Linked DNA regions of Homo sapiens: region 1 is linked to region 2. Evidence: fine-mapped expression QTL. A gene starts in region 2. The other region holds a variant in brackets. All regions are shown on one strand. Distances are from middle to middle. Region 1 has its middle 9.0 kb from the start of KRT76. Region 2 holds the start of KRT4 (keratin 4).

Region 1 (5,375 bases), 27 kb before region 2:
CCCCATTCAGCAGCATAGCACAGTAGTTGCATGTGTACACTTTGGATTTGAGGCCAGATCTGCCACTTCCCATCAGTCATGTTACTCTGCTTCTCCAAGCCAGTGTCCTCATCTAGAAAATGAGGATAATTGCCGCCTGCCTCTTATGGCAGTTGCAAAGGATGAAATGAGATGACATATGCAAAATGCCCAGAATATGACTTGCACTAGTCACAAAAGTTAGTTGTTTAATCCAGTTGTTTTTGTTAAATATGTCAGGGCAGTAATTATCTTTAAGAGTCTACCCTACCCTTTTCAAAATCTCATTAGCTTAGTGAAGCTCACAGTGCCTGCTATGTGCCAGGCATTTTGCTGGTCACTGAGGAGCACAAAGATGAATCAGGCAGAGCCATCCCTTCGAGTAACTTCTATCTTAATGTGGAGAACAGGCACTGAAACTAGTCATTTTAATATAATACGGCACATGATAAAAAGGGATAGACAAAGTCCCATGGGAGTCCAGACAGATGCTCAGTGCCATGGAGGGTCTAGGAAGGTTTTCAGAAGGCAGTGCCTGGGTAATCCTCAGTGATGAGTGAGGCAGGGCAAGTGGGTGAAGGCGGGATGAGCATTCCTGACAGAGAACAGAGCATCAAAGGCACAGAGGCGTGAGAAAGCCAGGTTGATACCAGAACTGCAGGCACCTTGTAGGCCATTTGCACAGGTCTTGAAAGTCTCCACATAAGGCCACACTGTTTCCTTGGCTTTTTTCCTATGTCTTCATCCAGAATAAAAGGGCATTTCCGTTTTAAAATAAACAAACTTCGGCCAGGCATGGTGGCTCATGCCTGTAATCCTAGCACTTTGGGAGGCCGAAGCGGGCAGATTGCCTGACTCAGGAGTTCGAGACCAGCCTGGGCAACATGGTGAAAGCCGGTCTCTACTAAAATACAAAAAAAAAAAAAATTAGCCAGGCATGGTGGCATGCACCTGTAGTCCCAGCTACTCGGGAGGCTGAGGCAGGAGAATCACTTAAACCCATGAGGTGGAGGTTGCAGTGAGCTGAGATCATGCCACTGCACTCCAGCCTGGTGGCAGAGCGAGACTCCATCTCATAAAAAAAAAAAAAAAAAACTTCTACAAATACATACTTCCCTCAAATCCACAAGGATCTCTATCCAGTTCAACTATAACCCATATCACTGTAACTAAAGATCTTCTCCCAAGGAGAGAAATGAATGAGACGACCTCTTGTTTGGCACAGCTTTCTCTGCAGTGGCACTGTGGACATTTGAGGCTGGCTGTTTATATGTTGAAGGGGGCTGGCTTGTGTGATGTGGGATGTTTAGTAGCAACCTGGCTTCTACTCTCTAGATGCCAGTAGCACTCCCCGACTTGTGACAACCAAAAATGTCACTAGACATTGCTATATGTTCCCTGGGGAGCAAAATTGCCCCCACTGAGAGTCACAGCATTAGTTCCACCTAGAGTCACCTTCTCCTGCCACCGTCTTCTCCAGTGGTTGACGGAGCTGTCACCATTCAGTCTCATCACCACAGATTCCAAAAGTATCAGATTCTCCCAGCACACCTCCATCAATGGTTCCCTAGGAGAGCCAAGTCACCTTCAGCCTTCAGCCTGGACTGGAAGTGTTGATGGGGATTAGCTCTATCTTAGGCACAACAGAGATGTGTGTTAGACAATGTGTATGCCAGAAGGGCTTGTGAAGGATGTAGTGAAGATTCAGATAAAATGTGTGAAGAAGCATTTTCAGAACTTAAGTGAGTTTTTCTCGGTCATCCCAAGATTATCTCAAGGTTCCCACACTTTTTGTCTTTGTCTTTGTCTTTGCATAGAGGGAGAATACACATGGGCTGAAGTGCTGAGAAGGCAGAGAGAAGAGGCAGTCCAAATCCCAGAAAGTGAGATCTCTGATGCTTGGCTAACAAACACTCCACCCAGTTCTAGGCAAAACAGAGAAGAGTCATGTAGAGATTTACCTGCAAATTACACAAAACGTTACATGCAAAACTTGATCATCAGCAGTCAAGTCTAGATTATCCATAGGCAAGCGCTGAACTACTTTCAAATTCTTGTGGAAAACAACCCTCTGATTTCCTTAACTGAGCCTTTCATAGGTGTGACACTGTTACCACTGATACTTGCTCTGACATGTAGCCTGTATTCTCACAAAGATATAGAAGGAAAACCTGAAATCTAAAAACACAACTTGGTCTTCCTAATGGGAAGTGAACCAGTGAGTCCGCAAGCTCTTAGAACAGGAAAACACTCTTTTGAGCATTTCTTCTGGGGAAGACAGTGTGGGGGTGGTTGGAGGGGATAGATGATGATAGATAGATAGATAGATAGATAGATAGATAGATAGATAGATAGATAGAGGCGTAGGGTAGAAGTTGGTTCCTCTATGTCCAACAATGATAGACTGGATTAAGAAAATGTGGCACATATACACCATGGAATACTATGCAGCCATAAAAAATGATGAGTTCATGTCCTTTGTAGGGACATGGATGAAATTGGAAATCATCATTCTCAGTAAACTATAGCAAGAACAAAAAACCAAACACCGCATATTCTCACTCATAGGTGGGAATTGAACAATGAGAACACATGGACACAGGAAGGGGAACATCACACTCTGGGGACTGTTGTGGGGTAGGGGAAGGAGGGAGGGATAGCATTAGGAGATATACCTAATGCCAGATGACGTGTTAGTGGGTGCAGCGCACCAGCATGGCACATGTATACATATGTAACTAACCTGCACATTGTGCACATGTACCCTAAAACTTAAAGTATAATAATAATAAAGAAAGAAAGAAAAAAAAAGAAGTTGATTCCTCTTTTTCATTGCAAGTGGATATACCTCTCCACACCCAGGAAAGAGAGATGTGGAAGAGAGAGCAAAGAAATTCTTGACCATTGGCCAAAGACCCCAAATCCCAGTTTAGGATCCAGGCTCACAAGTAGGCATTATTCAACAATCACTGTGAGCTCTTTGTGGGCAAAAGTATGCCTTAGAGGACAGGAAAAGCATGGACAACACAGGACTCACTATGTACTAGAAGAATGAAAAGTCTAGTCAAGTACAAGAAAGCAAACTCAAGCCCAGTGACTTAAGA[G/A]CTCTTGAAAAGTCAACATAGAATTGTGCAAAAAAACTATGCAAATGCTAAGGCAAAGGAAAAGAAGGAGCACTGAGAAGCAGGTGAAGTTCCCTGCAAGGGGTTTTCAGCCTGGATTAGAAACAGTCAGGGCCTGGCAGGGCGCGGTGGCTCATGCCTGTAATCCCAGCACTTTGCGAGGCAGAGGCGGGCGGATCACCTGAGGTCAGGAGTTAGAAACCACCCTGGCCAGCATGGCAATCTCTACTAAAAATGCAAAAATTAGCTGGGCTTGGTGGCTTGCACCTATAATCTCAGCTACTCAGGAGGTTGAGGCACAAGAATCACTTGAGCCCAGGAGGGAGAAGTTGCAGTGAGCCAAGATAGTGCCACTGCACTACAGCCTGAGTGACATAGGGAGACTCCATCTCAAAAAATAAAGAAAGAAAGAAACAGTCAGTGCTGGGCTGAGAATATCCAGCCAAGCATGGAGTTAACTCCTTGGGTCCTAGGTCCTGGCACCAAGGTAACCTGCCCTGGCCATTCCTCTGGAACAATGACATCTCCAAGAAATAGCCTCTCCACCCCACTCCTCCTGTACCAGGCTGTCCTTTAAGAAGCTGCATGGAGCCCCATCCCACCACCTCACCACTAGTTGTTACTTAGGTAGCAGGGGTTCCTGTAAACCCCACAGGAGAAACAAGTGCCAGCGAGCACAGGTCCAGGGAGGAACAGCAAAGGACAGAGGTCACAGTCTGAACATGAGACTTGAAACCAGTGTGCATAGTACCCAGGAAGGCCAGGCCTGCTCTGGGCTTTCCTTGGAGCCAATTTAGAACCCCCATGACTGCTTGGGTGGGGGCACTCTGAAGAACGTGGCCTAGGCTCCACCATCTGGTTGATTGCACTCCTGTCCCTGACTCTACATTCAAGTCTGCTTTGGTTCTCAGCATGGGCCCTCTTCTCCACCCTCTCTCTGGAAAAACTCATTAGTTTCCATGGCTTTAAAATCCACCCTTAAGCTGATGATGTCCAGATGCGAGTGTCTAGCCCTGACGGGGCCCCCTTCTGAATCTACAGGCTCACATCTCTCCTGGATGTCTCATGTGGCTATCTCGTGAGCAGCTCCTGCTTTTCTAAAGCACAGCTGAAGTTTCTCTCCACACCCATCTCGCCCTCCCACCCCTCCACTCACCTCAGTAAATGGCACCACCAACCACCCAAGTGGTCATACTGGGAAACTGGGCATCCTGGTTGAATCTCCCCTTTCCCTTAACCTCCCCACCTCCATCCAGTCCATTAACCAGTCCTGGCATCCATCCAACTCAGCCTCTAGTTTCATTTCTTTATATACTTCCCACAGCTTAAAATTATTGTGTTCATTTGGTTTGCTTACTTTTTTTGTTGACTCCCTTACTAAAATGAGGGTGGGGTCAACATCTGATTTCTTGCTCACCAATTCGTCTCCAGAATTTAGCCCAGTTCCAGACAGAAAATAAACACTTAATGAATACTGGTTGAATGAGTGAAAGAAGGAATTCATTGATAAAGACTTTGCCCAGGGTGAAGCAGCTGCCCCATGACTGGCCTGGCACAGTCCCATAGGGCGAGCCCCCTAAACTGGGTTGGGCACTGAGCCTCCCCACCTGTGTCTCCTACTCCTTTCCACAGAAGGATACCAACCAGAAAAGGTACCTTCCTACCCAAATGTGAAGCAACAGCTCCTAAATCCCACCTCCTTCAAAAAGTGGATCCAGTAGCTGGATTTCCAGGCTGAATCTCTTCAACCCCCAGTTGCAGGTTTTCTTTATCTAACTGCTTTTCCTCATCTCTAAAATAAATTCAGCCTTGTCCAAGGATGGAAATACTGCTTCCCTGGCCTGGCCTGGCCTGACTACACATTTCTATTCCACAGCCTGTGTGTTCTCTCCGGGTGCCCCGGCAGTGTGACATGCCTGGAAGGCATCCTCGAAGACAGTGTGGGGAAGTGGAGGGAGCTCCGGACTTGGGATGCAGGGCTTCATTCCTAGCTCAGGCATTCACATGCTATAAGACCCTGGAGGAGTCACCCCTCCTCTCTGAGCCTCAATCTTTTCATTTGGAAGCAAAGGCCTTGGACTCCTTGCTTCTGAGTCCTTTCCAGCAGTCACCTTCTGGACAGCACTCCCATGGCCAACTAACACATTATCAGAGCTTCTTGGTGCAGGGCAGAAGCCAGGATGACAAGAACTCTCATGGCTGGTGCACCTATTTTCAGGCCCCAAGTGCATGCAC
Region 2 (5,375 bases):
TGTAGTTGATTTAATGTCCCTGAAAGGGCTGTCCTTTTGGCCATTTTGGCAGATTAAATTCTCAGCAATGTCATCAGCACACTCCATTTCCCTTTGTTTGGTGGGTGAGTGAATTGAGAGACAGGGTTGGTATTTATTTTGTCAGTCCTATCCCATAGTGAGTTTAATGAGAGGTGCTGTGTATTCAGTGTTCACTCTGTGTCCTGAAATATGCCACATGCTTTCTCTATTTCATTTAATTCCATTTAATTCTCACAACCCATAAAGTAGGAATATTATCCCCATTTCAAAGATGAATAAAACTGAAGCTCAGAGAGGTTCAGCTATTTACCCAAGGTCACACAGCTAGTAAGTGAGGACTCAGTATGCAAACCACCTCCATCTGTCTCTACAGTCTGTATTCTTCTAATCATACTATACTGCTTTTCATCTATTTGGGTTCTGATCTTGTTCGTATATGGCAGACCCAAATCCCTGAATCTATCATTAAATTTCCTTTCGGAAAAATCTGTGGTTACCAGACCTCACCCTGAGAAAACGTGACTATGTGGATGTAGCAAAACAGACTAGAGGGCCTTCCTAGACGCCTTCAGAGCCTGAGATTCTAAGCCACTGGAGAGAGCCCCGGGAGCCTGGGTGTGGCTGGGCACATGTGTCAGATGGCGTCCCCTCCTTCCTCCCCATGTACTTAGTCTTGAAGTCCTCCACGCTGTCCTGCATGGTCTTCAGCTCAGACTGCAGGCGCCCTTTGTCATTGCCCAAGGTATCTAGCTGCTTCCTCAGGACACTGAGGTAGGTCTCAAAGAGGGGCTCAAGGTTTTTGCTGGAGGTGGTGGTCGTCTGCTGCTGGAGCAGGTTCCATTTGGTCTCCAGGACCTTATTCTGTTGCTCTAAGAACTGCACCTGTGTTGATAAAGGCACCAGCCAAGTGATGAGGGCCTGAAGTGTGGCAGGAGGGCCAGCCAAGGCAACACCAACCCAGTCAATCCCAGGGAACTACACGGCCCAAGAACCACCCAAGTAGGGCCACTATGTTGCATCTCCAGGGCACCATTCACTCGGGTTGACATGATGGCCCCATTCTCGAGCCCATAGCACCAAGGGGTCACATAGGTTGTGGAGAATAGAGCACAGCCAGAGAAGCAGGGCCTAACAGTGCAACAAGAACAACTTCCTAGCCGCAGGCACCCAAAGCCCCAAAGAACATTAAACTTCTATGAAATAACAAAATAAAATTAAGAGACATCACAATCTGGAGGCTCTTGCATTCAAAGTGATCCTGACCCAAGGCAAATGAAAGACAAAGTCACTACAGACTTTTTAAATAAGCTTACTTATCAATGGATCTGGCGTGTCCCTGTGAACCTGTGAACAACTGAGTATAGATATTTAAAACAAGGGCCCTGTACGCATTGTCTCACCTAAACTCCATTCTGCAAAGGACTTTCCTGAACTTTCCCTCTCTCTATGAAAAAATCTAGCCAGACAAACCAGGACAGCAGCTTAGCATGACATTTCCATGTTATGAGCCTCAGAATTGAAAGGAAAGCAGGTAAGGCAGACCGATCACATTTTGAACCCAAAAGGTAAAATGAGATGAGATGAGACAAGGATGCATCAAAGAGCCCTGAGTTTTTGCTATCACATCTGCATGTCCTATAGTCACAGTAAAACCTCTTTAAGTTACTATGGGTTTATTCAAACTAGCAAGAAGAACAAATATGCACCTTATTCTATTCCAAAAGTGTTCATTCTTGCCCCATATGTCGAAGCTGCCCAAGACTTTGATGCCTGGTGAACCAGGGCAACCTGGACCAAAGGGAGGCACTCATCCACCCAGTCATCAATCTTTGGATGACTCGGCTCTCTGGGGCTGCACTGCTCACTATCATCCATCATGCATGACCATAACTGAGCTTAAAGAACTTGAACTTCTAGACGTTGCATGAAAAAGGAAGTTGGGCTACAAAAAGAAAAGAGACCTGTCTCCTTTCTTCAAACAGACCCAGACATGAGCAGTGTTGTCCAGTCAAAGGAATGAAAAAAGTAAATTTCCAAGGCCTTGGTGAGACCTAGAATCTGCCACTGGAGCCAGTCCCTTTTTCATTTGCAAAATCAGCTTAGTTGTCTTCTGTTCTAAGAACAGAAGTGGCCACTGTTAAGTGATTAATGGGGTTAACTGCATTATATTCAAAACCAAAATCTGAGAAAAAGCAGAGAAATAATGAACCCCCTTTATAGCTGGGATGACTAGAGCCAGAAAAGCCAAATGATTTGTCCAGTATCCCACAGCCTGTCTAGGGAATTCCAAACACTTAACTGCCTTGAGCATCCCACCTTCCCACCAGCCACGGGACAAAAAGGAAGGCTCAAAGTCATGATGCCCCTTCAACAGCTGGAGAATTGGGGCCCAGGGAAGTTCAGTGGTCTCCCCAGCACCTGTGGCAGGCTCAGGTCTGAGACCCCAGGACTCAGGACCCCTCTCTTCTAACTGCCCCTCTCCAGCCGAGGACACAGCTCACCTTGTCGATGAAGGAGGCAAACTTGTTGTTGAGGAGCTTGATCTGTTCGCGCTCTTCCGTCCGGACTTTCTGGATCTCAGGGTCAATCTCCACGTGGAGGGGGGTGAGCAAGCTCTGGTTGATGGTGACCTCCTGAATTCCCCCAGCGGGGCAGACGGGGAAGCCAGGGCCACCCTTACCACTGAAGGAGCCCCCAAATCCACCACCAAAGCCACCAGTGCCAAAGCCTCCAGCACCCCCAAAGCAGGCACCTTGTCGTGACCCAGCCACACTCATGGAGATGCTTTTGTTCCCCCTGAGGTTGTAGAGGCTTCTGCTGCCAAATCCCCCAGAAGAGCATCGGCCAGCACCTCCAGACATGGAGACTGAGCTGAAGGCACCTCTCTTGCCACCGCCTACAATGGCCGAGCCACAGCTGAAGCCCCGGGGCCCGCCTCGGACACACTGCTGTCTGGCAATCATGGCTGCAGAGAGCGAGCTGGGAGCTATCAGAGAAGTGACAGGGCCCAGGCCGGTGAGTGCTGGAGCCCTCAGCCTTCGTCTCTTATATGTCCTGGAGCAGCAGGGCTTGGTTGCAGGGGCATAAAGGGAAAAATCTGAAACATCTCTGGGCTTGGCCCTTGGCACAAGCCCATCCTTCCCGCACCCGTTGAGCATGTCACTAAACACACCTACAGAAGTCATCTGGAGGGCACAGGTTACTGGATCCCATCACACTACTCTCTGGGAGAACCTGAACTGGTGCCCCAGGGCTTCCTAATCAGAAGCCCCTGCCTGGGCCCAGCGCTCCAGGCCCACACCCACTGTACCTCCATCTCGCTAGGCTCACAGCACCTCCCTCCTCCAGAAAAGACACCCCATCACCCATCCTCTCACCCCACAGAATGTGGAGTTAGACAGCCTGAGTTTGAGCGCACAGCCTGCCACCTCCTAGCTCTGCAAACCGGAGCAAGTCACCCTCTGAGGCCCAGTTGCTTTCCCTGTAAATTGGAAGTAATACAAATATTTGCCTTGCCACTTCTCAGGATAGAGTGAGCTAGTGATTAATGGAGTGCTCTGTAAACTGTCAAAAGCCACATGTATATTTGTCATTCTTAGCATTCTTATTCCTCCACATGTTCTTGGCTCCATGTACCTATAAAAAGGGGAAATATTCTGTATTCCAGCCTTAGCCTTCCAACCTAGATCCAGATTCACTTCAACTTGGCCAACAGCTACTGAGAAACTGCCAGGCATGGAGCTAGGTACTAAGGAGATGGGGGAAGACAAAACACCTCCCCAAAGAAAACCGTGACTGTCTTTCTCAGCCCTGGGTACCCATGCTGCCCCGCAGGCCTCCCTTCAATCTGTGCTTGCACAATTCTAGATGGGCGTTCTCCAGCGGGGTCTGGTGGTGTGCACTCTGCTGCTCCATTTGCTGTCCAGTTGTTTGCTAGGTGTGTTCTGGTTTTCTGTAATGGTGCAGAATTCAGGGCAGGAGTTCATAACTTTTTTGCTGCTGGGGATCCCTTTGGCAGAATGATGAAACCTATGGATCCCTTCTCAGAGCAATGTTTTTAAATGCAAAATCCTAGTTTTAAGCCATAACTTAAATTCTTCCCAACTGAACAGTAACAGATCTGTGTTCAAATCCCTCCTGTTGCCACTAACTAGCTGTATAACCTTGGGTGGGCCAACTAAGCACTCTAAACCCATCCAATATGGTTTGGCTCTGTGTCCCCACCCAAATCTCATCTTGAATTGTACTCCCATATTTCCCACACATTGTGGGAGGGCCCCGGTGGGAGATGATTGAATTATGGGGGCGGTTTCCCCCATACTGTTCTTGTGGTAGTGAATAAGTCTCACGAGATCTGATGTTTAATAAGGAAAAACCCATTTTGCTTGGCTTTCATTCTCTCTCTTGCCACCACCATGTAACAAGTGCCTTTTGCTTTCTGCCATGATTGCGAGGCCTCCCCAGCCACATGGAACTGTTAAGTCCAATAAATCTCTTTCTTTTGTAAATTGCTCAGACTCAGGTATGTCTTTATCAGCAGCGTAATAATGGCCTAATACACCATCCAATCCATCTTCTCATCTACCAAATGGGACACCTGCCTCACAAGGAATTAGACAATGTCCCCATGGTGCCTGGCATATAGGAGGTCAGCAGGCATTCATTCTCTTCTTTCCCAGGCTTTGCCATTGCCATTTACAGGGAGAAATCTGGTGTGTTTGTTCTCCCTCCTTTCCTCAATTCCTCATAGATGAAATGACCCCAGGTCTGAGGAAGAGCAGTCACCAGCACCTGGATAATCCCACAGACCCAAGCTGCCCCTAGCTGAATGAAAGCTGGCCAGGGAGAGAGTGAACGGCTGCCTCCATGCACAGAGAGAGGGCAGGGGCCAGTGCTGAGGACAGAGTGGTCAGGAGATCCCACCCCAGACGCAGGGCTGCAGGGAAGGCCAGGCTGGCTGGGAGTTCAGCCAGCTCCTTCTCCAGCCACTTCCTCCCTTGTCCCCATTCCCCCAACCCCTCCCTCCCCTACCTCGGGTCTGTCTCTGCCAAGATGGCCTCTAAGTAAGTGGAGAGGGGGTGGAGGGGCTGTGGCCATGAGGACTGGAGGCCCCAGGCCCCATCACAGGAGAATGCCCGCGTCATGGGTCAGTCCACCTGCAGTAGGTGAGCATTCTAGAGCCAGAACCATCTCCTAGAAGGAAGGGGTTGGACTTTCACTGATCCTTTCTGCCCAGATTCACCAAGCGCCGACTTCGTGCCAAGCTCTGTGCTGGATGCTTTACCTACATTTGATCAACTAGTCTACTTAGAGGCTCTATGGAGTCAGCACCATTAGCCTTCCTTACAGAAACT

What was found. PIP is the estimated chance that this variant, and not a neighbour inherited with it, causes the effect. A credible set is the group of variants that fine-mapping cannot tell apart.
Region 1: its variant is the best candidate, but not a certain one, in a credible set for the expression of KRT4 in lung (TOPMed, PIP 0.60).

The regions. Positions count from the first base shown.
Region 1 is chr12:52,783,646-52,789,020 of GRCh38, forward strand. No RefSeq gene overlaps it. Among named protein-coding and RNA genes, the nearest start is that of KRT76, 9.0 kb to the left of the region's middle. The variant G/A (reference allele first, on the strand shown) is at 3,123.
Region 2 is chr12:52,811,075-52,816,449 of GRCh38, forward strand. KRT4 (keratin 4) reads right to left here and starts at 3,042. Exons shown (of 9, transcript NM_002272.4): 1 at 2,523-3,042; 2 at 689-903. The coding sequence starts at 2,984. RefSeq lists a silencer at 1,747-1,947 and an enhancer at 2,113-2,614.